Linked DNA regions of Homo sapiens. The protein of the gene in region 5 purifies or fractionates together with the protein of the main gene of each other region. This does not show direct contact. Each region holds a gene or a part of one and is shown on either strand. Other genes may lie near its edges.

Region 1 (3,500 bases), on a different chromosome or scaffold from region 5:
GTCAAGAATTAATGAATTAAGTTTATGCAAAGGACAGCTTCAAATCAAACCTTCATTATAAACTAGTCAAACCTGCTATTTTGTTCCTGGATTTTTATGGCCTGTTTAAGTGCCATCCAAAGAAAAACTCATAAAGTTGACATCCCTTTTCAGACTAGTATGAACCCACTTATTATACTACCATACTGTTATGAGATTCAAGTAAAAAAAAATGTAGACATTCCACAAAAGGGATAACAACTGTTTTTTTAATCAATGTATTCTCAAAGATTAAGTATGTTTCCTGGAATTAAATGTGTGTCACCTAAAATTAAAACAAACAACGCCCCCCCATTCTGCTAAATGCAATGTGGTATGCTGGATCAGATCCTGGAAAAGAAAAAGGACACTTGCAGAGAACTAGTGATTTGGTGAAAACAAATTTTGTTGAAATTCAAATAGTCTGTAGTTTAGTTAAAAATAAGGTACCAATGTTAGGCCTGCACGGTGGCTCACGCCTATAATCCCAGCACTTTGGGAGGCTGAGGAGGGTGGATCACGAGGTCAGGAGATCAAGATCATCCTGGCTAACACGGTGAAACCCCATCTCTACTAAAAATACAAAAAATTAGCCGGGCGTGGTGGCGGGCGCCTGTAGTCCCAGCTACTTGGGAGGCCGAGGCAAGAGAATGGTGTGAACCCGGGAGGCGGAGCTTGCAGTGAGCGGAGATTGTGCCACTGCACTCCAGCCTGGCTGACAGAAGGAGACTCCGTCTCAAAAAAAAAATTATTGTACCAATGTTAATTTCCTAGTTTTAACAAATGTAACATGATTATGTAAGATGCCAAAATTAGTGGAAGCAAAATTCTGTACTATCTTTGCAACTTTCCTGTAAATCTGGTACTATTTCAATATGAAAAATTGCAAAAAAAAAAACAAAAAAAAAACACTTCAGGAAAGAACCCAGCCCACAATAAACGCTACTGTGAAAGCTAAGAAATGGTATCTATAATTATTAATAGTGCTAAAATATTTAATTGGAACAAAAAACACATTAACATACCATATTTATTTTCAAAGAAGGATTGTGCAGAGACATGGGATGTATGCCAATGGGAAGAAATGTTTTTGCCTTTACAAAATCCAGGAAGTAGATTTTCTACCAGCTGATCAATCTGTCCAATTTTTAGTTCAGATAATCCAAGGTCCCTTAAGTTAAGTGAAGGCTGTAAAAGATTGGGTCAACCAGGTATGCATTAATATTATCAAGATATTTAACCTAAGGAGTACATATTATCAGTTAAAACAATCAGATTTTAAAAGTCTAACAAATATATTTCCTTTTTTTAATATTTAAAAATAAATTGATGCAAATATTTTCACAGTTCGTTTTACTGAGATCAGTCATATGAGGTTTGACATAGGTTAAAAAATTATATTCCTAATGGTATCCTTAAATAAAGAGATGACATTTCAGCATGAATGAGAAAAACTTTTTTTTTTTTTAAATCAAACCCAAACCACTACTGTCCTAAGCATTATGGTTCACAGAATCAAGTGAAATGTATGGCATTTTTTCCTTCTCTCCATACAAGGGTACTCTGATCAAGAGCTAGTCTATCAACTATTGATCAAGCATTTATAATGACAAGAGTGTAAGAGTAACTAACTGCAGGGTTACAAAGTATGTTATATAAGGTCCAGGGGATTTTCCCCAACAGTGTAGAACTGATTGGAGGATAATAGTAAGGTTCTTGAATTGGGGAAATTCCATTCAAATGATAATCCTCACCAGTCCATGGAGCTTTTAAGCCCCTAAGCAGCCATAAACAAAAGCCCACTTGACAAAGAAATGGTATGCTTGGTTACCATAGGACATCTCACTCCTCTGGCCTCATTGCTTAGATCCTTCCTTGAACTCAGAGGTTCTAAAGTTACCCATATCTTCTAATAAAGAAGAAAATTAAAGTCAAAACTGTGTGAAAATCAGGCAAAAAAGTCTAAAAATCACAAAAATGTGTGTATACCCACTTTTAAACAACAGGATAGGGATTATTTTCTTGTCCACATGAGCTGAAAGAGAGGCACTTAAAGGCAAGTAACAATTACATGTTACTCAAACCCAAAACAGCTAAGGTGGGAAGATCGTTTGAGGCCAGGAGTTTGAGACCAGCCTGAGCAACATGGTAAGACATCATCTTGATGAAAAATTTAAAAATTAGCTGGGCATGGTGGTATGCACCCGCAGCACCAGCTACTCAGGAGAAATGTTTGAGCCCAGGAGCTGGAGGTTGCAGTGAGCTATGACAGCATCACTGCACTTCAGCCTGGGCTACAAAGGGGAGACCCTGTCTCTAAAAATAAAGTTTTTTTTAAAAGAGGCATGGACACGGATTATATAGCTCTGGACTGATGTCTGGGAATACGGTACTTTTTAAATTAGCTATAACTCATATTCTTAGAATTCATTTTCTCAATACTAACATAACTATAAAATACACCTTATTTCCTAATAGTAAGGATCAAAGGCAGAGATCATGCCTTACTCATCTACGTATCCTAGCATACAACATGACAGCACATAGTAAAAGACAGTTAAAGGCATGATGAAATAAAATACTTAAAAGTACTTTTTAAGCTATTAAAAATGATCAAGGCGGCTTAGGGACGGGGGCAAACAAAAAGCCATCCAAGGGTCTGGAATATCTCAAAAAATTCAAGGAAAGAAAAAATTAAAGAGATAGGTTATGGCCAAACTGTGAAGAGCCATGTTTGAATTTAATTCTCTAAGTAACATGATTAGTTCTGTCTTATAGAAGAAAATGGAGAACTAAGGAAGATAGACTGGCCTAGCATGGTGGCTCGAGCCTGTAATCCCAACACTTTTGAGAGGCTGAGGTGGGAGGACTGCTTCAGGCCAGGAGTTCGAGATCAGCCTGGTGAAGAAAGCAAGACCCTGTCTTTACAAAAAATTTAAAAATGATAAAACAAACAAACAAAGAAACTAGACTGGATGAGAGAGAAGGCTGATGGAACAAGTGAAAGATGGCAAGAACCTGAACTAAGCCGTGACTAAGAACGATGGACAAAACAAATCATAGACAATAGGCATTTGGAGAAACCCGCAGTGTACAGGGATTGAGAGGGAGAAGGGTTCTGGACGGATGTGCCAGTTATCGGTTGTGTCCAAGCTCTTCTTCATCCTTTTTGCTGGCTCCATGAACATGGATCTGTACCCTTCGAATATTTTTCCTTTGCCAATTGAAACAATGTTAAGCTTCGTCAGGAAGTCACTGAACATACACTGTAGGAAGAGAGGTTTTGATTCCTGGTTGTGGTATGCTCATTTAGCAAGTTCCTGTCTGTAACACCCGTGGTTTCTATAGCATCTGGCTCCTGTCAATTGTGCAGTTTCACCAAACCCTGGCTCCTGGCGTGCACAATGGCCAGCAGGACCTAGCAGCTTCCCCTGGCACCACTCGTGTAACAGCTTCTCTAGTAGGACACATCCCCAGGAACA
Region 2 (3,500 bases), on a different chromosome or scaffold from region 5:
CTTATTGAAAAAAAACCATACTATTTAAATAAGAATTCAGTTCATGAAAGTTTACAAAATACAACCAATGTACTCTGACTTGTGGTTATATCTTAACTATCTCAACTGTACTTTTCTGGTATGGCCAGACCTTTTGCAAATATTACCATGGTATTTTAATTTTATGATATAAAACAGTAGCAATTTATTAAGTTTTCCATTATAAAAATTAATATGGCAATTCTCAAAATACTGAAAAAACTGTTTTATGAAAGCAGTACCCACATCACTGCAACGTATTTCCTTTCTCTTAGAAAACATCTTCAAAAGGCACATTTTAATTACTAGTGTTTATATCTAAAGATAGTAGTTTGAGTTTTGAATTTCCAGTCAATTTTCCATTATCTCAAAATTGAGCTAATGGAGGGTTGGAAGAGGTAGGAGAACGCAGGTTTCCAATGAACTCCCTCAGGGCAGCAGAATCCTCATTCATCTCGTCCATGAAGACCAAAAGGAAGATATAAGGGAAAAAGGAATGGCAGATCTGTTTTGCATCCTAATTTAACCTTCTACACAAAATACTTCATTAAAAGCAAATAAACAAACACAAGATAGTAAGCTTAGAAAACAAAAGGCCTAGACCACAAATTACCCAGTTAAGCCCAAGTGGTGACATTGGTTTTAAGCCTCAAGAAAATGAAACTTCTGCTTCTGTAAAATCACATCTTCATCAATTGAATTTAAATCACTTAGTGCATTAACAATGTTACAAATTCCAATAATGTCAGACATATGGATGATATTCAAAATAAAGTACAAAAATACATTTCAAAATCAAATATAAATGACTTTATGGTTATCTGCCATGCTCCCCTTTAATTTGGCCTGATAGTCTACATTTGACTGTAATTATAATAACATCTGTAATTTCAAGTACAATAGTACAATCATAATAATTTTGAAGAACGTATGACCTAGGACCCCAAAATGCAATCCAATATACAATTTGGAGTATGGTTTACTTTTTAGTGAAGTTTAATACTAATTGAAGTACTAAATTGAACAAGGCCAGTACTCTGAAGTACTAATCTCAAGTATTTGATCCCATGTAAGAAACAGAAGGGAATTTTTAAGGCAATTTTGGTATTCCAAAATATTGGGGATCTACCTTAATTTTCTATTATTCCCCTCAAGTCTCAATTGAATATTTCCATTTTTTAAAAAAAGGGGAAATTTCTTAGGTTTTTTCCTCACTACAACAAAGTAATTCACCAAAAATATTCTCAAGTACAAAAACCAAAATGGTCCTCTATTACTTAGCCAAGATATAATTTTCTGGTCCCTAATAATGGTCACTTTAGGAGTACTTATTCAAATTCTAAAATAGCAGCTTTTGAAATTAAGGCAACATTGCTTTATTCTTACCTGTTTTTCTATTAGCTAACTATTTTATTAAAGTTCGTAAGAGCAATTTCAGACGTAGGCATCCTCAAAGGCCTTTTGTAATGTAAGAAGAATTAGCATGAACATTCTTCTCAATATTAAAAGTTATTGTATTCTACTTGGAATTCTAGAGTAATTACAGTCATTCCAGCATGTGTAAAATTACCTTTTAAACTAACAACAACATAAAATACAAATTTTCTACAAAAATACAATATAGGAGATATAGCACTTCTTCCCTGAAATAGAAATTTAATATTTGGACAAAAAACTGTAAACTTTTGGTTACATTCAAAATACAACCTTTTAAAGACTTAAATTGAGGTTTTAGCAACTGGAGCTCCTAACAGCAGATTTATATTACTATGATGTTTTAAAAACATGATAATTCTAAACAGTTTGTTTCTCTTACTCTGACATTTACTACCAGGAGGAAAAAAATGGCTTCCTGCAATTGACAGTCTGGGTAAAGGAATTGCTCAGGTGGACAATCCGACCCTGACTTCCACCTTGACTGCGTTCCACAATCACACAAGGTATCTGTACTAGCTGGAAAGGACTCTTCCCGTCTCTCAATGCCTGAGTAAGGTTTAAGATCTGTGGGAAGAAGAGAGATTTTTACCAATTTAAAAAGATAAAAAGCTTCACTTCACTGACATTTTTTAAACCATTTATTCATTATAATTTTTATTTCATCCATTTATGAGCAACAGAGACTGTGAAGATAAGTACCTGTTATAAATATGTATTATATGAATGTATGTTTACACACACACGCGCACACACACACGCGCACACACACACACACACAATTAGCATTAAATAACTTTTGCCAGATGGTAAGTTTAAAATATTCTAGAATATCCTGCCTATGTCCAGGAGCAATGGAATCAAAGAACGGTAAGTGAAGAGGTCTACATACATATTCAATTTAACATAAAAACTCAACAAATACTGGTTTAAACAGTCTGGTTTTAACTAAATACTTGCCTTATCCATTCATTCAACAAATTTATTGTATGCCTACTATGTGCGAGGTTCTGCTGTAAGTGCTAGGGATACAATAGTTAAAAAAACAAGCAAACTTGCTGCCTTCGTAGAGCTTACACTTTAGCAGGGAGAAGAGTCAATAAACATGAATATGTAAATTATGCCATGTATTAGAAGGTGAAATTGCTATGGGAAAGCATGAAGCAGGGCAAATAGGTTAGAGAATTTGGGAAGGCAGTCATTTCAAATAAAGGTACATTTAAGAGTTTACTCTTAAGAAAAATAAAATTAGGGAAAGTAAAATATATTACATATCATGTTCAAAGATACTCTGGGAATTTCTACTTGGGCATGCAAATAAGGTTATGAAACACAATACATAGATTATTCTGGTCTCTGTTCAGGTCAAATAAAATTATAGCAGTTCATCTTCTTTTTTCCCTGCATATTAGGAAAAATGTCCTTTCTTGTATATTTTAGAAATACAGATTTCTCCTTCAGGTATTTGAAAATATCTAATATATACATCCTATGCATTTCACTGGTTCTTGTAAAGACTAGTCAATAGTGATAAGCATAAATGTTTCCACATAAAGCCATACTAATAAATAAACTTCATAATACTTTAAATAGTATAAACTAGATGGTTGGTTGATTGATTGATTGATTGACTGATTGATTGTAGAGATGGGGTCTTGCTATGTTGCCAGGGCTGATCTTGAACTCCTGGCTCATGCAATCCTCCTGCCTTGGCCTCTTAAAGTGCTGAGATTACAGGTGTGAGCCACCACAGCTGGCCAAACTAGATGATTTTAGTTTGTAGAATATTTGGAGCATTTAACACATCAGGAAAATAGATCTTTACTAGTAACAGTGTTATAGGTTATGTTTATGTTTTAGGATCACTTTTAAGTTCTTCCCTTAACATTTTCTTTTTTTTTGTTTTGTTTTGTTTTGTTTTTGAGACAGGGTCTTGCTCTGTCACCCAGGCTGGAGTGCAGAGTGCAATCACAGTGCACTGCAGCCTCTGCCTCCTGGGCTCAAGCGATCCTCCCACCCCAGACTCCAGAGTAGCTGGGCCTAGAGGC
Region 3 (3,500 bases), on a different chromosome or scaffold from region 5:
GTGTGAAGGTCGCCTCCAGGAGCTGATGGGGAGAGGTTGTACTTACCGTGTTGTTCTGTTTCAGGTATTTTGCACTTGGACTGCTCTATCATTATAATAACCAAGATGCTGCTGCAGTTCAGGTGAGTCTAGAAGGGTTTCCACATGATTTAAAAATCAGCACCATGTAAGTAATACTTAGTGTTACTTAAAAAAAATTCACAAGTTGATAGAGACCACTTTTGCCTGATCTACACCCTTTTATACAGAATAAAAATGATTCTGTTTTAGAAAGTGAATTCCTGGAGAAATGTTGGCCAAGAGTTTTCTTCTCATTGTCTTTCCATCTCCTTAAAGAACATTATCAAGACTGAGTTTTTGAAAACTTAAGAAATGAAAATATGATCTCACAGAGTTCCAAGTCATAATATATCACTACCCTTATCAGAAAATTTAGGCAGTGAATGATAGTCGGATTTACCATTTCCACTGTTAGTGATGATCACTGTTGCCAATGAGCTGGGTACATTATTATCCTTGTGTCACCTGTGACAAAACCAAAGCTGATGCATGCCAGTTGCTTGCCCGAGGCCATGTGTCCGTGGTAGATCTGGGATCTGAACCGCGCTCCATTGGCCTGGCAGGGGTCCTGCACCCTAATCAAAATGGCATCGATTTATTAGCATTGTCACATTTTGTATCTTACATCTTGCTACTGATCTTGAGAAAAGCCTCATCTCACACTCTCAGGGGGAGACTTTCTCCCCTTCGTTATTAGTTATGCATTTGTACTGCACCGTGTTGTTTCCTGATGTGCCTTTTTGCTTTATTTTGTGAGGGGCCAAGAGCATCAGCCATGTTCCCCAAGCTAAAGTTAACCTCATGACTCTGGCAAGGCTGAACATGTATTTAGTGTTTGATTGCTTTGTGAGACTATTGTGGTAACCTGATTGCAGAGCAGAACAACAACAACAACAAAAAATGGAGTTGGGTGAATTAACACGTACCCAATGGCCAAGAGTAGATTTGGGTGTCAGTGATAAAATTTTCATTTTCAAAAACCTGGTGTTCTCAGTTACAGCTTTATATAAGTATAGTAATAACTTTAGCAGAGCTGTAGAGAGATAGATTTGCAAACTTGAAGTGATATGGGATAAATCTCCATACGTGGTAGAATTTTATATAAAATGGCATATTTCAAGGTATGTGTGATTATTTGGTTTCAGCAATTCTGTGTTGAAGAAACTAGTATCATAAAAAATGTTCGTATGCTGACATCAGAATTCCAGAATTCATATGCCACCCCTGTTTCTGGGCTCCTTCCTGGTGCTGTGGCTTGGAGGGGTGGTGCTGTGTATGGGTGGGTGAGGCACGCCATGCAGGTATTGCAGAAGGAACCCACGCAACCGTCATCCTTTCTACCCCCAAGTGATGCTGCCTCATTCTGGGGTCCTGAAAGTAGGCTTCACTTAACATGGTAGGGAAGTTTCTGGCTGAAAAAGCAAAAGGCTTTTATCACTGGAGTCTATCCTGAGCCCCCTGTGCAAAAGGCAGTGTGAACTCAGGGGACAGAATCACTGAAGCTTTTGTAAAAGCACAACATCTGCCTATCACAGTCCAAAGGGGACTTCAAAATCAAGAATGTCTGTGACGGAGAAGATGGAAACAGAGCCTGGCTGATGGTTGTAGGTGAATCTTCTCTGTGTCGAGATGTTATCAGTGACCGTTTTCTTTATTTCATGAAGAAACATTTTTAATATATTCACCTCCCTGCATATATTCTGTTTACTGTGTTATTGTTAAAAAAAGAAAGAAAGATAAAAGAACCTAGAGCTTAATTTTTTTTTTTATTTCTTGGACTATGTCTTTTTACATTTCTTTATTTCTCCAAAAAAACTAAAATTTAAGCATTTACAGTTTTTCCAACTACTTTAAAAGGTATTAAAAAGCCAAATAAGTAAACATATGCCATTTCTCAACTAATTCTGAGATATGTGCCTTTATGATTGTTTTTTCTTTTCTTTTTCTTTTTTTCTTTTTGATTCCTTTCCAGTTGTGGGTGAACATTGTGAATGGCGATGTCCAGGACTCCACACGCTCAGACCTGTATGAATACATCGTGGATTTTCTTACCTACTGCTTAGACGAGGAACTAGTGTGGGCCTATGCTGATTGGGTCCTGCAGAAAAGTGAAGAGGTTTGTGCTTCGTAAAAATGCATTCTCTTTGGTTGGGGGAGGTGGTAAAAACAGACCCCAAAAGCTTTGCTTTTAGGAGGGGAAAAGAAAGCTACATTTCAACCTCCTCCTCTGTTTTTTGTTGTTGTTATTATTCCCCTTTTAATACCTTCCCTTGAGCTCTCTGGATTCTAGCTCTAGGGCAGTTCTGCATCTTGCTGCTGAGACATTCCATTGAGAATCCCCTTGCTGGGGCAAGTCACTTGTATAGAAAAGCAAGACATAGCCAGCTTGCATTTTTAGCATCTTCTTAAGAACTTGTGTCTGTGAACCCCGCTCCTCGACCCCTCAGAAGTCTGACACTGCTGTTTTCTGGAGCAGGATTAGGTGGTTGCCCTGAAGGACTTGATCTTTGGGAGGAGGAAGCACCCAGACCTGGGCCACACTGGGCCCTCATCCCTGCTCCCACCACTGCCAACATGGAGCTTGTGGGCCTGGAGGAGGGAGGGGAGCCATGAGCAAGACTCGGCCTGTCCTGGAGGCTGAGAAATGCTGGCAGTGAAAAAGCACCTGTTGGCTAGAGGGAAGGTAGCAGGCTCAGGACAGTATCCTTAGTAAAGCCCCACAGGTGACCACAGGTGACTGGGAAGAAGACAGCAAGCATTTCAGTTCTCATCGTGAAAAACGTATACGCTTCCATGGCTCCCCTTGGAGAGACAAAATGAGCTTTCTGATGCAGGACGTTGGTCCTGAATGGAGAGTTTCTGAGTGCTGCATCTGCCTTTCTAAGACCTGAGTTGGAATATATTCTCATATCCTCCGTGGTGCTGGCTTCCCTGGAAAATCAGAGCCAGGCACTTGCACTTTGCATACTTGTTTCTCCATCTTTACTTTGCCTCTGTGCACACGCCTGCAGAGCACATCCTGACCTGCTCACACACACCTACAACATGGATCTCAGTGCCGTTGCAAGGTTTAGGCTTCTCCCAATGCTTATGGATGATAACAGCAGATACTGCACGGTGGACAATCCCCTGACAAAGGTCATCGCTTAAACATCATAGCAGCCCCTCAGTGGGCATTAGCTACAGATGAGGAAACTGAGGCTATAGTTGGTAGAGCTGGGACACAAATCCAGGCTTATAGAATCCAAAATTCATACCATAATACATGATACGTGAATGTATTGGCCTTGGAGGGGGGAGGTGCGTGTGTGCGTGCACATGATAGAACCTCCCACATGTAAGTGCTCAGGGGAGGTGCAGTGGAGAGCTGCTTTCCTGCCTGCCTCACTGTCCTTTCCTTGAACCAGAGGATTGGACCAGTGCCTCCACTTGATGGACAC
Region 4 (3,500 bases), on a different chromosome or scaffold from region 5:
TGTGGACAAGACCTAGCTGAGTGCTATAGCCAAAGTGATCTAGTCTCCAAACACGCCATAGGCTCTCTTGCTTTGATCTCTGCCCACACTGTTCTTTGAGCACTGGAATACTCAACTTTTCCATCTCTTAGCCAATATTATATCCAAACTTCTAAGTCAATTTCAAATGTTACCACTTCCATGAAGACTTCAACTCCTTCTACTAGCTGTGTAACTTTCCTCTGAATTCCAAGTTCAAGTTTTATTCAGGGTAATAAATATATTCTATTTTGTACTTAACTCCTTTTAGCTCTGCTAAATGGGTAGTACTGATAAAGGAAGAATGACAAGAAGAATCTATTATGTAGGAACACAGAAAAATAATCAAGGAGCTTCAAGTAAAATTCAGGAGAAACCATACATATGTCAACCAGACCTTGTGAAGAGAGAGAAAAATCAGGGAGAGAAAATAGGCAGAACTGTGCAATGGCTCATATGGGTGAGGAGAGGTCCCTTACAACTCAAATTCTACATAAATAAACATACACACATTAGTATCTACTATAGACACATATATATCTTGTCTAATCTAAAATCAGTATATAGTGAAGAATACTAGACTACTTATCAGCAGACCTAGTTCCTGCTCTGTGAAACAGAACAGAACCTTGTATAAGTCTCTGCTCTTCCCTAGACCTTCCATTCCTCACCCACACGAGAAGCCTACTGGACAAAAATCAGCTTAGAAGTCTGCTAGAGATTCATCCCTTGCTTTGCACATACTTCCTTGCAACATACAACCCCATTTTTAACTTCTACACCAATTTTTATTTGAAGATAAAAAGTTCCAAAAGGCCGGGCGCGGTGGCTCATGCCTGTAATCTCAGCACTTTGGGAGGCTGAGGCTGGAGGATCACCTGACATCAGGAGTTCAACACCAGCCTGGCCAAGACGGAAAAACCCTGTCTCTACTAAAAATACAAAAAATTAGCCAGGTGTGGTGGCACACCCCTGTAGTCCCAGCTACTCGGGAGGCTGAGGCATGAGAATCACTTGAACCCAGGAGGCAGAGGCTGCAGTGAGTCAAAATCATACCGCTGCATTCCAGCCTGGGTGATAAGAGACTCCATCTCAAAAAAAAAAAAAAAAAAAAAAAAAAGTAGAGAAAGTTGAAAGTTTAAAACTACTTCACAGATGATATCTAATCTCAGGCCTCTTAAGGCTGGGATTCCAATTTTTTAAATTGTAGCATTTACCCCTGTGTTTTGCAAGGCAACAATAAAATCAAACTGCATTTCAGTTCATGGATGGCATTACAATGACTGACTCAAATCTGACACTACAAAATAAAAGGACTACATATGTGCAAGAGTATCATGTGGTTAAGTCATTTATTTATTTAAAAATAATAGTCTCTATCCTAGATGCAGCATCTTAAACCTAAATTTAATCTCACTAAAGGGACCCTGGTATTAAGCCTCCTTAATGCAAGAAAATCATCTATCCCTGGTCTTTATTTTAGCTGTTGTTTGAAATACATGTTACAAAAAAAGTATTTCTTATTTTTGGGACAGCTTCAATTGTTATTTTTTTCTGTGACTCAAGTTCTAATTTTCTAAAACCTAATTTGCCACCAGAGAGAGTATTTCTCTCTCGAGGGAAAAATATATACAGAAGCATTAATTTTTATCAAATAAACTTAGTTTCACCTTCTGAAATTCAAACAAAACAGTAGAGGTCAGGGGTGCAGGGCAGAGAGGACAGCCAGTAGAAATAAATCTAAAAATATACTGCTTAAGAAGACAAATCTAAAGCCTGTATAGTATGTTAAATACTTAAATACAACTTTCTGTGCTTTTAAAAGATAATCCTTGGGATTTTACAAACCTGTGGATTATCCATGTACCACACGAAACTATCTTCTCTGGTATCCAGTATGAAGTACCTTCGAAGAAATTTCCCACTGTTTTCATTTTCTTCAATGTCTAGAAAACCACAAATGCGATTCTGACGATCCACATAAGGCATTTCTGAGCTTGAACATTACACTGTAAAATAAAAATATTAACAGTAAGCTCCCTATGAAACAGGAAAGTATTTCTCATGGACTGCAAATCTGTTCAATGAGGGGGCAACTTGCCAACATTAGGTAAGGTCAATTAAAATGAACACACACCAACATCTGAGGCATTGACAAAAATCACTTTTGAAATTCAGTTTGTGAAGAGTGGTTACTAAATGTAACTATTTATTCACTGTGATGGGGACAACAGAGAGCTACTCACCTCAGCTGAATAATTTACTTACTTTTTCCCTAAAAAAACCCCAGGTGAGCCAAAAAAAATAGTTATCCAAATTTTAATTTCCTCACAAATCAAGATAATCTATCCTTTAGATTATTTTAGAATATTTTTAAATTCACAAAACAACAAAAGTTAAAATTTAGTGACCACTTGCTACATGCTAGGCTCTGTACAAGGTTCTTTTCCATATGTTAACTCTTTTAATCTTCTAAACAATCCTAGGAGTAGGCATAATCATCCCCAGCAGATAAGGAACTTAATACACAGGGGAAGTGATTTTCCAAAATTCCAAAACTAGTAGGCCAAGAGTCAAAGCCTGAATCCAGATTACCGCACTCTAGATCTCCTATCTTATGCTCTACACCATCCTCTCTAAAAAACCCTTGAATTGTTAAAACTAAAGTGAATCAAAATAAACTAGTTAATGTACTGGAAAGAGAGATAAGCAGGTATGATGTGCCTCCTGATGGAAGACACAAACATCACCTATCATGTGAACATAAAGCAACAAGAAAAAATGTTTTTTAGATCCCCTCTATATCCAAATACCAACCTACAGGAGATGCAGAACACAGAGGAACATGCTAAACTGCACCAAAGGAATTCAATCAGCAAGAGCCAGACTATAAGAAACAAAGGAAAAAAAAAAGTTTCTTTAGCAAGTAAATTATTACAAGAAAAAAAAGAAAAAGAGAGACATTATAGATTAAAATAGACTTAAAAGGTGTATCATATTCTGGTCCTAAAGTACTGCAACTTTTATTGTACTGATTAAAGTTAAAAAACCATTAGGTGCCAAGAACTGTTTCTCTAGAGACTACAGACATGTGATTCCTTCTTGATGTGATGCTTAGCCCAAATCTGCACCAGACAGCTGTTACTATTCTGGTACTTCTATAGCTGGCACCATCACATCTTTTGGCAGGATGAATTTACATAACTATTTATTTAGAGGCTCAAGGTAAATTTAACTTACAGTGAAAATTCAATTACAATGCACACTGATATACTATGTATCTGCATCACTATTCCATATGCAGTCAGAGAAATGATAAAATACACCAAAAAGTTTTAAATAAAACCATCCAATAAGTTTGTGTGTTGTTGCTGTTATTGTTCTTATAAATCTGATACTTTAAAGGAAATAATTTCTTTAATAAATTTACCATGTTTGTAAAAAAAAAAAAGTTTACAATGTAATCAAAGCTTGAAAAATCA
Region 5 (2,651 bases):
TCGCCTTCTCCAAGGCCCTGCCCCGCAGCTAAGCCAGCACTGGTAGGCACCAGGGGGCTGAGAGCACCGTCTGGATGAGGCCAGCCCTGGGAATGCTGAGGGGCTGGGCTGGGCTTTGGGAGCCTGGGAGGGGACAGGTCAGAAGCCTGGGAGGAAAGCTGGGACTGGGGCTGAAGCAACCTCCCTCACCCCCAAACCTGTTTCCCCTTTTGTCTAGAGATGCGTGGTGCCTCCAGGACCGCTGCGGGTGGTAACCAGTGGAAGACCCCAGCCCCCAGGGAGAGGAACCCGTTCTATCCCCAGCCATGATAATAAAGCTGCTCTCCCAGCTGCCTCTCAGCTCCTTGTGTTGCACGACTTCCTCCTTAGCGTAGCTCAGAGGCGGCCAGAGAGGGCAGGGGGACAGGACCCTTCCTCTGGGACCCCTTCCTGTGGGCAGGGTGAGCAGAGCCTCCTGTGCTCCAGAGCCAGAGGTGCCCCCATGAAATGCCAGGCAGGGATGCAAATGAAAACAGAAGCATTTAATAGATGTGTGGACAAGAACGGGCAGAGAAGGTGCTGCGGGGAGGGGGTAAGTGCAGGAGCAGTCTGGAGAGGCACATTTGCAAGGCAGGGGAGTCCCACTTCCAGGAGTGCTCTGGGCCACTCAGCCTGCCTACTGTCTCCCAACAGCTGAGACGGGAGGCTGGCCCATCCCTACCTTTCTCGCCTGTAGCCTCAGGAGGAAGTAATTCCTTCCACTAAGTTGCAGGCTGGAGCAGCCCAGAGTGGCAGCAGCTGCGGACACAGGCTCACGGATGTGGGAGCCCTTACACCTGCTCACAGCCCTTCAGTCTGTCCTTGCAGCATGTGGAGGGATGGTGGGGAGGGGCTGCTCTCAGGATAGGGATAAAGCAATAGCCCAGTGTGCAGGGCCAGTGACCAGTGTGAAGCAACTAAGACGAGTGTGGGGGCAGAGAGGGGAACTGGGGGCAGCGAGGCCACCTGCCAGGCTGTCCTGGGCCATAGGCCACGTTCAGAAGACGAAGGAAGAGGTGGGGCCCGCAGAGCTGAGTACCTGCTCCGCCTGGGCCAGGCTGTCGCTGGCCTGGCGGTCCAGGTCCCAGCACTCCTGCAGTGTGTCCTGGAACTGCCGGCAGGCCTCCTCCAGGATGGAGCTGCTCCGGCTGGGCCAGGACTCCCAGTAGCCTGGCTCCACCCAGGGCTGGGCCTCGGTGGCTCTGGGGCCTGGACTGGAGCTGGGACGCAAGGAGCTGTCCAGGTCTCGGCACAGCTGGTAGAACTCACTACCACGCCCAATCACACGCTCACCGTCGATGACTTTCAGGCCAGGCAGCAGCTCCCGGACTGCAGCCCAGTAGGAGGGGTTGGCACAGAGCGGGTTGCTGAGCCGGGCCAAAGGGTCTCGGAGCCGCAGGTACTCCAGGCACGGTAGCCCAGCCAGACACTGCAGCTGGCCCGGGGTGGCCAGTAGGTTGCCTGCGGCATTGAGACTCTGCAAGTTCTCACAGGTGGCCAGTGGCTCCAGGCCCGTCAGCCGATTGTTGGAGACATTGAGCACAGCTAGCTGGCGCAAGGAGGCCAGCGGGCCCAGGTGGGTGAGCGCGTTGCCTGATAGGTCCAGCCACTCCAGGCCCAGGCACTCTCCCAGGCAGCCCAGGTCAGCCAGTCCCAAGCCACGCAGCTTCAGTAGCAGGATGGACTCCAGGGAGAACTCGCCTGTGCGTGACTTCAGCAGCTGGGGTGTGATCTGCAGTCCGCCAGCCTCTCCCGGCTTCTCCGCTGGAGGGTCCATGAGATGGAAGTCGGTTGGGATGGCCTGGGCCCTGGCAGGACTGTCACAGGGTTCCACTGGGGGTCAGCTGGTGCTCGCCCTGGCTCTACCCAGGCCAGTGCCAGGAGGCCTGGTTCCGATGCCCTGCTCGAAGCCAGCCAGTCCCTGAGGAGAGACAGTCAGTCAGCAGGCAGCACTTTCTGTGTCTTACGCAGCAGGTGACGGCAGGGAGTCTGACCCTGCTTTTACCATGAAAACCAACAATCTCAGCCAGGCAAGACCTGAAGACCAAGCTGGGACACAGGCCACAAAAGCCATCTGAGTGACAGGGATGGGGTGCAGGCCCAACCCAAGGGGAGCAGCCCAGACTGGCCCTGGCTGGTTAGGGCCATGCTGGATGGATTCAGGCCCAATATTACCAGTTCTTCCTGTCAAATCCAAACTAGGGGCAAAACATTATTTTACTTTTTCCGTAACCACTCACGATCCATCCCTATTAGTTTTGGGGTGTTTTTTAAACCGTTATTTTTGAATAGGCAATAGGTAACCACCATCACCAGTTTCTTTTGTTTTCTTTCTGGGATAATCAATGTATATGCAATGCAAACGAGAGCACATGTGCCTTGTTTGATTCACTCAGTATTACTGCAATTCTTTCTAACAGCAATGAATTCAAACTTGTTTCCAGATTATATGGGTCAGCTGGTACCTCTGGTTGGAGCTGTAGAGCATAAGAAGTTGGCCTTTAGTCCTGAAGGAGAAAACTGAGGTCAAGGTAGTGAAGGGACAGGGAAGGCTGGGGTAAGTGGCCTGGCTAGGTCGCACACCCTTGCTCTCACTTCACTGCCCGCCAAAGCTAGCTCTTTTGCTCTGGACT
Region 6 (3,500 bases), on a different chromosome or scaffold from region 5:
GGGAACAATGTGGCTCTCCGGCTGCCCATGAGAAACCTAAACCTAACACAAACACATTAACTCCGGGGTTTCCAAGACTGAAATTTCCTTTTACCCGCTCTACCCCCCAGCCAAATATATTAGAGATTTGTAACCAGAATATGTCAACTGAGTCATCAAAACCTTATTAGAGAATTTAGAAGGTATCAGTATAGTTTCTTTATCCAAGAAAAGCACGTACATAAGTTCTACCCAAAAAGAACGAAACCAAATAGAAAAATTTGCCCATGATTACACATCTAAAATTTGTCAGAATTAATGTACTGATAAATATGTTGTAATTAAAATATATGATTAATATATTCCAGTTACATTTTCTCAAGTCTGTTGGAAAATATATGTGAAGTATTAGGTTGGCACAAAAGCAACTGAGGTTCTTGCCATTGAAAATAAAGGCCAAAACCACAATTACTTTTGCGCCAACCTAAATATATAGTCTGAAATGGAATAATAAATAGTATTAAATAATTAATAGTACCAAGCACAATGTCTTTCATAAAGTAGGCATTCGACAAGTTTACCAAACACATAGACCTATATATTCTACTTCGGTCATATCTAAGTATATTTTATTACTCTGAGTAGACCATTAAACACACACACACACACACCTTCCTCCCAAAATTCACTAGGCGAAACATCTAAAGGTAGGCAAAGAATACTATTTAGTATTTTGGTCATAAAATGTTTTCTGAAAGAAATGAGAATCTTTAAAACTGTGCTTAAGGAGCTACAGGATGAAAAATGCAAATACCTGTGAACACATAGACACACATTCGCCAGAATAAACAAAATCTGCTCAACCACCAAGGCCAATGTCTAGAATTTGTAAATATCCAAATGCGACACTTCATTTTATAAGTAAAAAAGACATGACAAGTAAAAGGGCAAGTAACAATTTATTCAGAAATTAAATATCAGCATTCATGGATTTGGCCTAATAGGACTAGCATAAGTTTGGTCCAATTTCCTATATATGCACTGATGATCCTAACAATGATCTGGAGTTGATGAAGAACTCCAGTGTGATATATGAATGGTATGATGTAAATGTAAGTATACTATATGAGAAAGTGAAAACTTATTAACCCCTATGGAAACTTCTAGTTAACTAAAATAATTCATTCTCTAATAATTTCGCATAAATAGGAATTTACCCTGTTATTTTACTAAAATTATCAATTTTATTGATAATTTAAATATTAGTAATGCACTTTATAGATGAAATGTTTTACTTTCCAACTTCCTCAAACTTTGGTATAGAGATGGTACATGTAAATAAGGAAATACAGAATTAGCAATTAAAAAAATCAAAGTACTATCTCCTTTACAATTAAATGAGGTAGCACATGGTAGCCAAGTCTAAAATATCCAAATCCCACATATGATTGTTAATCACTAAGTCTTGTTTTTCCATGTACTATAGATCCTTTGATAGTTTCAGCTTCCATTTGCATCTCAAGATAATAGTGTAAGATACAGGATAAAAAATTCATATATTCAACTTCACTACTTTTTATACATTCTCGTTGAAGTTTTGGTAGAAAAGAAAGATGTAATCCTTGGTGAAATAAGGTTACAAATGACAGTTGTTCACTGATGTAATTTAGTTAAAAGTTAAGAATCAGAGATTTTCTAAAATTTTTGCTTGGTCTTAAAGGTTAAGCATACCAAAATACAACTGGCAATCTCCAACTTGCAAATATCATTGTTTCAAAAATTCATTTTTATATATTAATTGATTGGCAGCCAAAGAATATTTTCCAATATTTTGAAGGACCATTAACTCTCTAGGTCAATCTAAAAAGCCCCCTATGGTTTAGACCACACTTGACATATAAAATATAAACCTAATAGTTTGATATGATTCCCCCATATCAAACTACCATTTATAACATTGTTTTTCTTTATTTTTATTTTTTAAAAAGTAGAGATGGGATCTCAATGTTGCTGTTTTTATTTATCTATTTATCTAATCCTGAAATCAGTTAGTGATTGTCTCCCATAGGTGTCTATCTCCAAAAAAGGGACATGGGGCACCAATTCTGACATTTACTTAATGTCCTTTACATTCTGAAGTGGGCTGCAGGATAGAAACTTCCTGTGGTGAATAAAAAGAATGGCGTTACGAACTCCCGTCATTCACATCCTTTCCATTTCATGGCATAATATTCAAATTTATTTGAATGCTTATGAAGATTTTCTTTAAAAAAAAAAACTCACAAGATCAATTGAAAGGGCAAAATAACAGTATTTTATCAATACTCCCCTGGCCCCCATTACCTCCTATTTTCTTCCACAAACTAATTAGCTTTATAGACCCAGGTTATTCTTCATTCCCATCTCACATTTAAGAGATACAAAATTTTCAAAAATATCACAATTTTAAAAGTTAAAGTATAGGGAACTTATTAATTAAAATGAAGAAATTACTCCAGTCACATATTCCTGCTGAATCTTTATCTTTCATAACACTTTTTAAGACTGGTGATTAGAGGCTAGCAAAGGATTTTCATAAACTAAACAGATAGTGAATCAATAAAAACTGGAAAACTTGCAATTTACTGTGTTTAGGAATGGGGTCTAAGCAACAATCTAATCAAGAATGAAAGCAGTCAAAAGAAAGACATTTAAAATAACCACAGTAGTAATTTTCACACCAAGTATGGCAGTCTCTAAGTTAATGTTATTTTAAATACGTTTCAGTTTGGAATGACTAAACCTGTTAATAAAAACATGAAAATATTATGACATTTAGCTGACAGCACACACAATAAACCTCTGTTACAAAGTGACCAAGTCATAGTATACAAAATATACAACCTATAAACCCAGAAAGTTCCACAGTAAGTATACAGAGGAGACACAGGTTGGTTTCACCCTTATCAAAAATTTGATTCAGATGGTAAGTAAAACATGGTTCCAACATGGAAAAACAATAACTCTGTGGTCTCTTATTGAATAAGTAATATTAGAAAGAAGGTAGACACAGGGAAAAGAGGCCTGTTAGTGTGGCCACCCCCACCTAGACCAATCTAGAGAGCTGAATGTGAGTCCAGGTTGAGTAATCTTCAAATGGCACCGAGCCCTCACACCTTCTATACTTATAAAATGAGAGGGTCAGCCTGGTCACAGTCTAAAGTCTAAACCTTTAATCTTTTTTTTTTTTTTTTTTTTTTTGAGATAGAGTCTTGCTCTGTCACTCAGGCTGGAGTGCAGTGGCATGATCTCAACTGCAACCTCCGCCTCCTGGGTTCAAGCAATTCTTGTGCCTCAGCCTCCCAAGTAGCTGGGATTACAAGCACCCACCACCACACCAGCTAATTTTTTGTATTTTTTGTAAAGACGGGATTTCACCATGTTGGCCAGGCTGGTCTCGAACTCATGGCCTCAAGTGATCTGCCTGCCTTGGCCTCCCAAAGTGCTGGGACTGTAGGCATGAGCCAGGGCACCCAACCTAA
Region 7 (3,500 bases), on a different chromosome or scaffold from region 5:
GGAGAGCCAGTTCCTGTCACTGAGACAGGCTCTTCAGTCAGGAGTATGTAGCAACATAAGACAGCATGAGTATAACTTAACAAGATAATAGGTATTTGTTTCTTCGGTAAGAATATGAGACTATAAAGGCTTAGCAAAAGGGTATGAACTTGCATTTGTAACAATACTTACTAAATTTTTTAATGCATGTTGAAGGCATCTAAGTAGTGTTTCCAGAGTGCATTCTCTGTATCAAAACTGTAGAGTCAGTATGGCTAAGATCATAAGGAGAAGGCCATTAACTGTTTTGAACTATAATGCCACTGCGATCCATAAATTAGTAAATAAGTGATGGTGATAGGTGGCTTGTGGCTGGGCTATGTGGCCATCATATGTTAATGAGCTATTCAGATGGTTATCTGCCTAAAACAGGATATGTGGACCAACACTTAGAGGGTTGTTACTTAGGAAACACTGCACTCAGTTGCCTTCAAGGGTTATATATCTGGGGTAATGGCAGCCAGTCACTCAGTTGTGTTTAGGTGAATGTCTTAGAGCTTTACTCATTTGTTTCTTTCCTTATAGACCATTTAAGATAAAGAGCTCTTTAGCAGTCATCAGGTAATTGAAATTCTAAGATTATCAAATACTAGTTGGGTTGTCCACTTTAAGGCTGATTTTCTTTCACATGATATAAAGTATTTTTCCAGTCTCTCACTTACTCGCTTTGGGAAGAAAACTTGATTCATTTACACATTCATTCAGCAACATTCCTTGAGTACTATTTGCTAGTCATTGTGCTAATGCCAGGGAAACATCACAAGATAAGATGCCATCCCAGTCCTCACAGTAAATAGTAGTGATATTGTTAATATAGCATATTAGAAAATTTATTACAGAGAAATGCAGTATAGTTTGAGAGCATAGATGAAAATAACATTTATTTCCATCCTAATAGATTTCGGTTTTGGAAATTTCTTTAAAAGTGGTGAACTGCTGGCAACATGGTGTGGCAGCCCCCCTTATGCAGCCCCAGAAGTCTTTGAAGGGCAGCAGTATGAAGGACCACAGCTGGACATCTGGGTACTGCTTTGCTTTGCTGTGTTGTTAAATGCATCTATACTGATAATACTTGGTGTTCTGGCCCATCTTAGAAGCTCCTGGTACTTAACACATAAGCAGTATTTCATATTTTCCCCATCCACTGGACTATAATTACTCAGAGCATCTTGAAATGGATCCCTAGGAAAGAATTTCTAAGGATAGGTGTTGTCATCCTAATATCAGCAGTAATTTAAAGTTAAGTAGTAATCAAAATTATCAGATTCAAATTCTTTGGTATTTATTATAAGATACTTATTGTAGTAGTCAGGGTTTTGGATTTTTTTCAAATTCTGAGAAAATAATAAATCCAGACAGGAATTTTTCAGTCCATATGATTTCAAGAGCCCTGGGGATGTTCAGGAAAACAAAGAGTGTTTGACGTTCTTGGTAGAAAAGTCTCTGCATTGTTTTCTTCCCTAGAGTATGGGAGTTGTTCTTTATGTCCTTGTCTGTGGAGCTCTGCCCTTTGATGGACCGACTCTTCCAATTTTGAGGCAGAGGGTTCTGGAAGGAAGATTCCGGATTCCGTATTTCATGTCAGAAGGTAATCAACTTTTCATCTTATTAATGGTGTTTTACAGTGTTAGTGCTCCAAGTGAAATGCCTAGGTAAAAGCTTCTTTTTTTCTAAGAGTTTGGGTGCCAAATAAAGTGACTGAGCTGTAGGTTAAAAGCTATAGAAAGAAGCAACCTCCTTTATGTAGGCGAGACAGGTTCCAGCCTTCTACTTGTAACTAAACACACAGCATTTCCCAGATTAAGAGCAGCATGTCTTCTCATTCATTCTGGGTCTATAAATGTCCCAGGTTTATTTTAGATTTAACGAAGCCCTTTGTAGATACAGATTCACAACCATTTTACTCCAATATGAAATGAACTTTATAAAATTAAAATTTTTTTAATTAAATAAAAAGCCAAACTGGCAAAACTCTGCTAAATTCAGATGATATGCCATAATCCCTGCCTGTCGTGTATTGAGCTGTTACCTAGATAGCAGTTAAGTTTACCCCTTAGTTTCATTTTGGTTATCATTCTTAACTCTGTTCTTTCTACTAAGAGTAGAAATAATAACTCTTCATAGTTAAGAGCATGGACTGTGAAGGCAGACTACCAGACTGCCTGGTTTTAATCCTGAGTCCACTGGTTACTGGCCATATGACTTTCACAAGTTTTGTCTCCTCTCTATCTGCTTCAATTTCCCCATCTATAAAATGGAAATAACAATAGCACCTACCGCACGGGTGTTGTAAGGTTTAATTAAATTAATCTGTCAGTCAGGTGCAGTGGTTTATACCTGTAAGTCCAGTGGTCTGGGAGGCTGAGGCGGGAGGATCTCTTAAGGCCAGGAGTTGGAGACCAGCCTGCACAATATTGCAAGACCCTGTCTCTACAAAAAAGTTTTTTTTCAATTAGCCGGGTGTGGTGGCATGCACCTGTAGTCCTAGCTACTCAGGAAGCTGAGGCAGAAGGATTGCTTACAGTGAGCTGTGATTGCATTACTGCACTCCATCCTGGGCAAGAGACTGAGACCCTGTCTCCAATAATAATATAATAAATAGGCATAATCTGTGTAAAGCACTTAGCACAGCGCCTGCCATATAGTGACAGGAGGTTACCTTATGTGTGAGTGAAGAGCATCATGTCAGCTCAGAGAATATGCTAGTGCTCAAAGTTGCAGCAGTGCGGTTTTCTTGGTGTAGTCAGAAGTAAGTAATATTTTATGTACACTTTTCTCAGCTACAGTGATGTGGAGGAGAGCAGCAGCCCGTTGGAGAGCTCTTTGCCTCGCTTACGTAGCCTTAGTATATCAGCATTAGATATGACTGAGGATCGATTTATTATTTGCTTGTTCTAGGAATGAGGCTTATTTCTTTCCTTTAGTGGAAACCAAAGTCTGTTTCTAGATATTTTCAGTTGTGAAATTCAGTAGAAAGTTTCCTTTAGCCCAGAATCTGATAGACCTACACCCTCCTGTTTTTCTTAGGTATTTGTTCACCATGTGAACTTGAGAAATATAAGTAGCCTGCATGTGTTCATTTATTCATTTGACCTTCTGCTTTCCAGTAGAGGATACAAAGATTAACACCCTTGTACAAAGTCACATGAGTCAAGCAAATAACCCTGAAGTGCAAGGTGATTCTTGTGACTTTTGTAACATTGTGTTTTCTATAGATTGCGAGCACCTTATCCGAAGGATGTTGGTCCTAGACCCATCCAAACGGCTAACCATAGCCCAAATCAAGGAGCATAAATGGATGCTCATAGAAGTTCCTGTCCAGAGACCTGTTCTCTATCCACAAGAGCAAGAAAATGAGCCATCCATCGGGGAGTTTAATGAGCAGGTTCTGCGACTGATGCACAGCCTTGGAATAGATCAGCAGAAAACCATTGAGGTAAAGTGATCAGAGATTTCGGGGT

Evidence for each region.
Region 1: the proteins of LRRC61 (region 5) and YME1L1 purify together in Homo sapiens (affinity purification with mass spectrometry, with the first as the bait; one large-scale study listed by BioGRID). This does not show direct contact.
Region 2: the proteins of LRRC61 (region 5) and PI4K2B purify together in Homo sapiens (affinity purification with mass spectrometry; one large-scale study listed by BioGRID and IntAct). This does not show direct contact.
Region 3: the proteins of LRRC61 (region 5) and TGFBRAP1 purify together in Homo sapiens (affinity purification with mass spectrometry; one large-scale study listed by BioGRID and IntAct). This does not show direct contact.
Region 4: the proteins of LRRC61 (region 5) and PLEKHA1 purify together in Homo sapiens (affinity purification with mass spectrometry; one large-scale study listed by BioGRID and IntAct). This does not show direct contact.
Region 6: the proteins of LRRC61 (region 5) and FAM184A purify together in Homo sapiens (affinity purification with mass spectrometry; one large-scale study listed by BioGRID and IntAct). This does not show direct contact.
Region 7: the proteins of LRRC61 (region 5) and SIK2 purify together in Homo sapiens (affinity purification with mass spectrometry; one large-scale study listed by BioGRID and IntAct). This does not show direct contact.

Annotation. Positions count from the first base shown.
Region 1 is NC_000010.11:27,144,385-27,147,884, forward strand, and holds part of YME1L1 (ATP-dependent zinc metalloprotease YME1L1), read right to left. Parts: intron 3,285-3,500; coding exon of another isoform or gene 3,114-3,284; intron 1,207-3,113; coding exon 1,044-1,206; intron 1-1,043. UniProt on the Homo sapiens protein: ATP-dependent metalloprotease that catalyzes the degradation of folded and unfolded proteins with a suitable degron sequence in the mitochondrial intermembrane region.
Region 2 is NC_000004.12:25,275,533-25,279,032, reverse strand, and holds part of PI4K2B (phosphatidylinositol 4-kinase type 2-beta), read right to left. Parts: intron 2,020-3,500; coding exon 1,846-2,019; 3' UTR 1-1,845. UniProt on the Homo sapiens protein: Together with PI4K2A and the type III PI4Ks (PIK4CA and PIK4CB) it contributes to the overall PI4-kinase activity of the cell. This contribution may be especially significant in plasma membrane, endosomal and Golgi compartments.
Region 3 is NC_000002.12:105,274,236-105,277,735, reverse strand, and holds part of TGFBRAP1 (transforming growth factor-beta receptor-associated protein 1), read left to right. Parts: intron 1-64; coding exon 65-122; intron 123-2,032; coding exon 2,033-2,176; intron 2,177-3,500. UniProt on the Homo sapiens protein: Plays a role in the TGF-beta/activin signaling pathway. It associates with inactive heteromeric TGF-beta and activin receptor complexes, mainly through the type II receptor, and is released upon activation of signaling.
Region 4 is NC_000010.11:122,391,708-122,395,207, reverse strand, and holds part of PLEKHA1 (pleckstrin homology domain-containing family A member 1), read right to left. Parts: intron 2,906-3,500; exon of another isoform or gene 2,836-2,905; intron 2,028-2,835; 5' UTR 2,008-2,027; coding exon 1,867-2,007; intron 1-1,866. UniProt on the Homo sapiens protein: Binds specifically to phosphatidylinositol 3,4-diphosphate (PtdIns3,4P2), but not to other phosphoinositides. May recruit other proteins to the plasma membrane.
Region 5 is NC_000007.14:150,336,006-150,338,656, reverse strand, and holds the end of LRRC61 (leucine-rich repeat-containing protein 61), read right to left. Parts: intron 1,940-2,651; 5' UTR 1,796-1,939; coding exon 1,016-1,795; 3' UTR 501-1,015; downstream 1-500. Other genes in the region: RARRES2 (retinoic acid receptor responder protein 2 precursor), read left to right, coding at 1-32.
Region 6 is NC_000006.12:119,068,665-119,072,164, forward strand, and holds part of FAM184A (protein FAM184A), read right to left. Parts: intron 480-3,500; exon of another isoform or gene 383-479; intron 1-382.
Region 7 is NC_000011.10:111,699,949-111,703,448, forward strand, and holds part of SIK2 (serine/threonine-protein kinase SIK2), read left to right. Parts: intron 1-937; coding exon 938-1,062; intron 1,063-1,503; coding exon 1,504-1,627; intron 1,628-3,254; coding exon 3,255-3,475; intron 3,476-3,500. UniProt on the Homo sapiens protein: Serine/threonine-protein kinase that plays a role in many biological processes such as fatty acid oxidation, autophagy, immune response or glucose metabolism.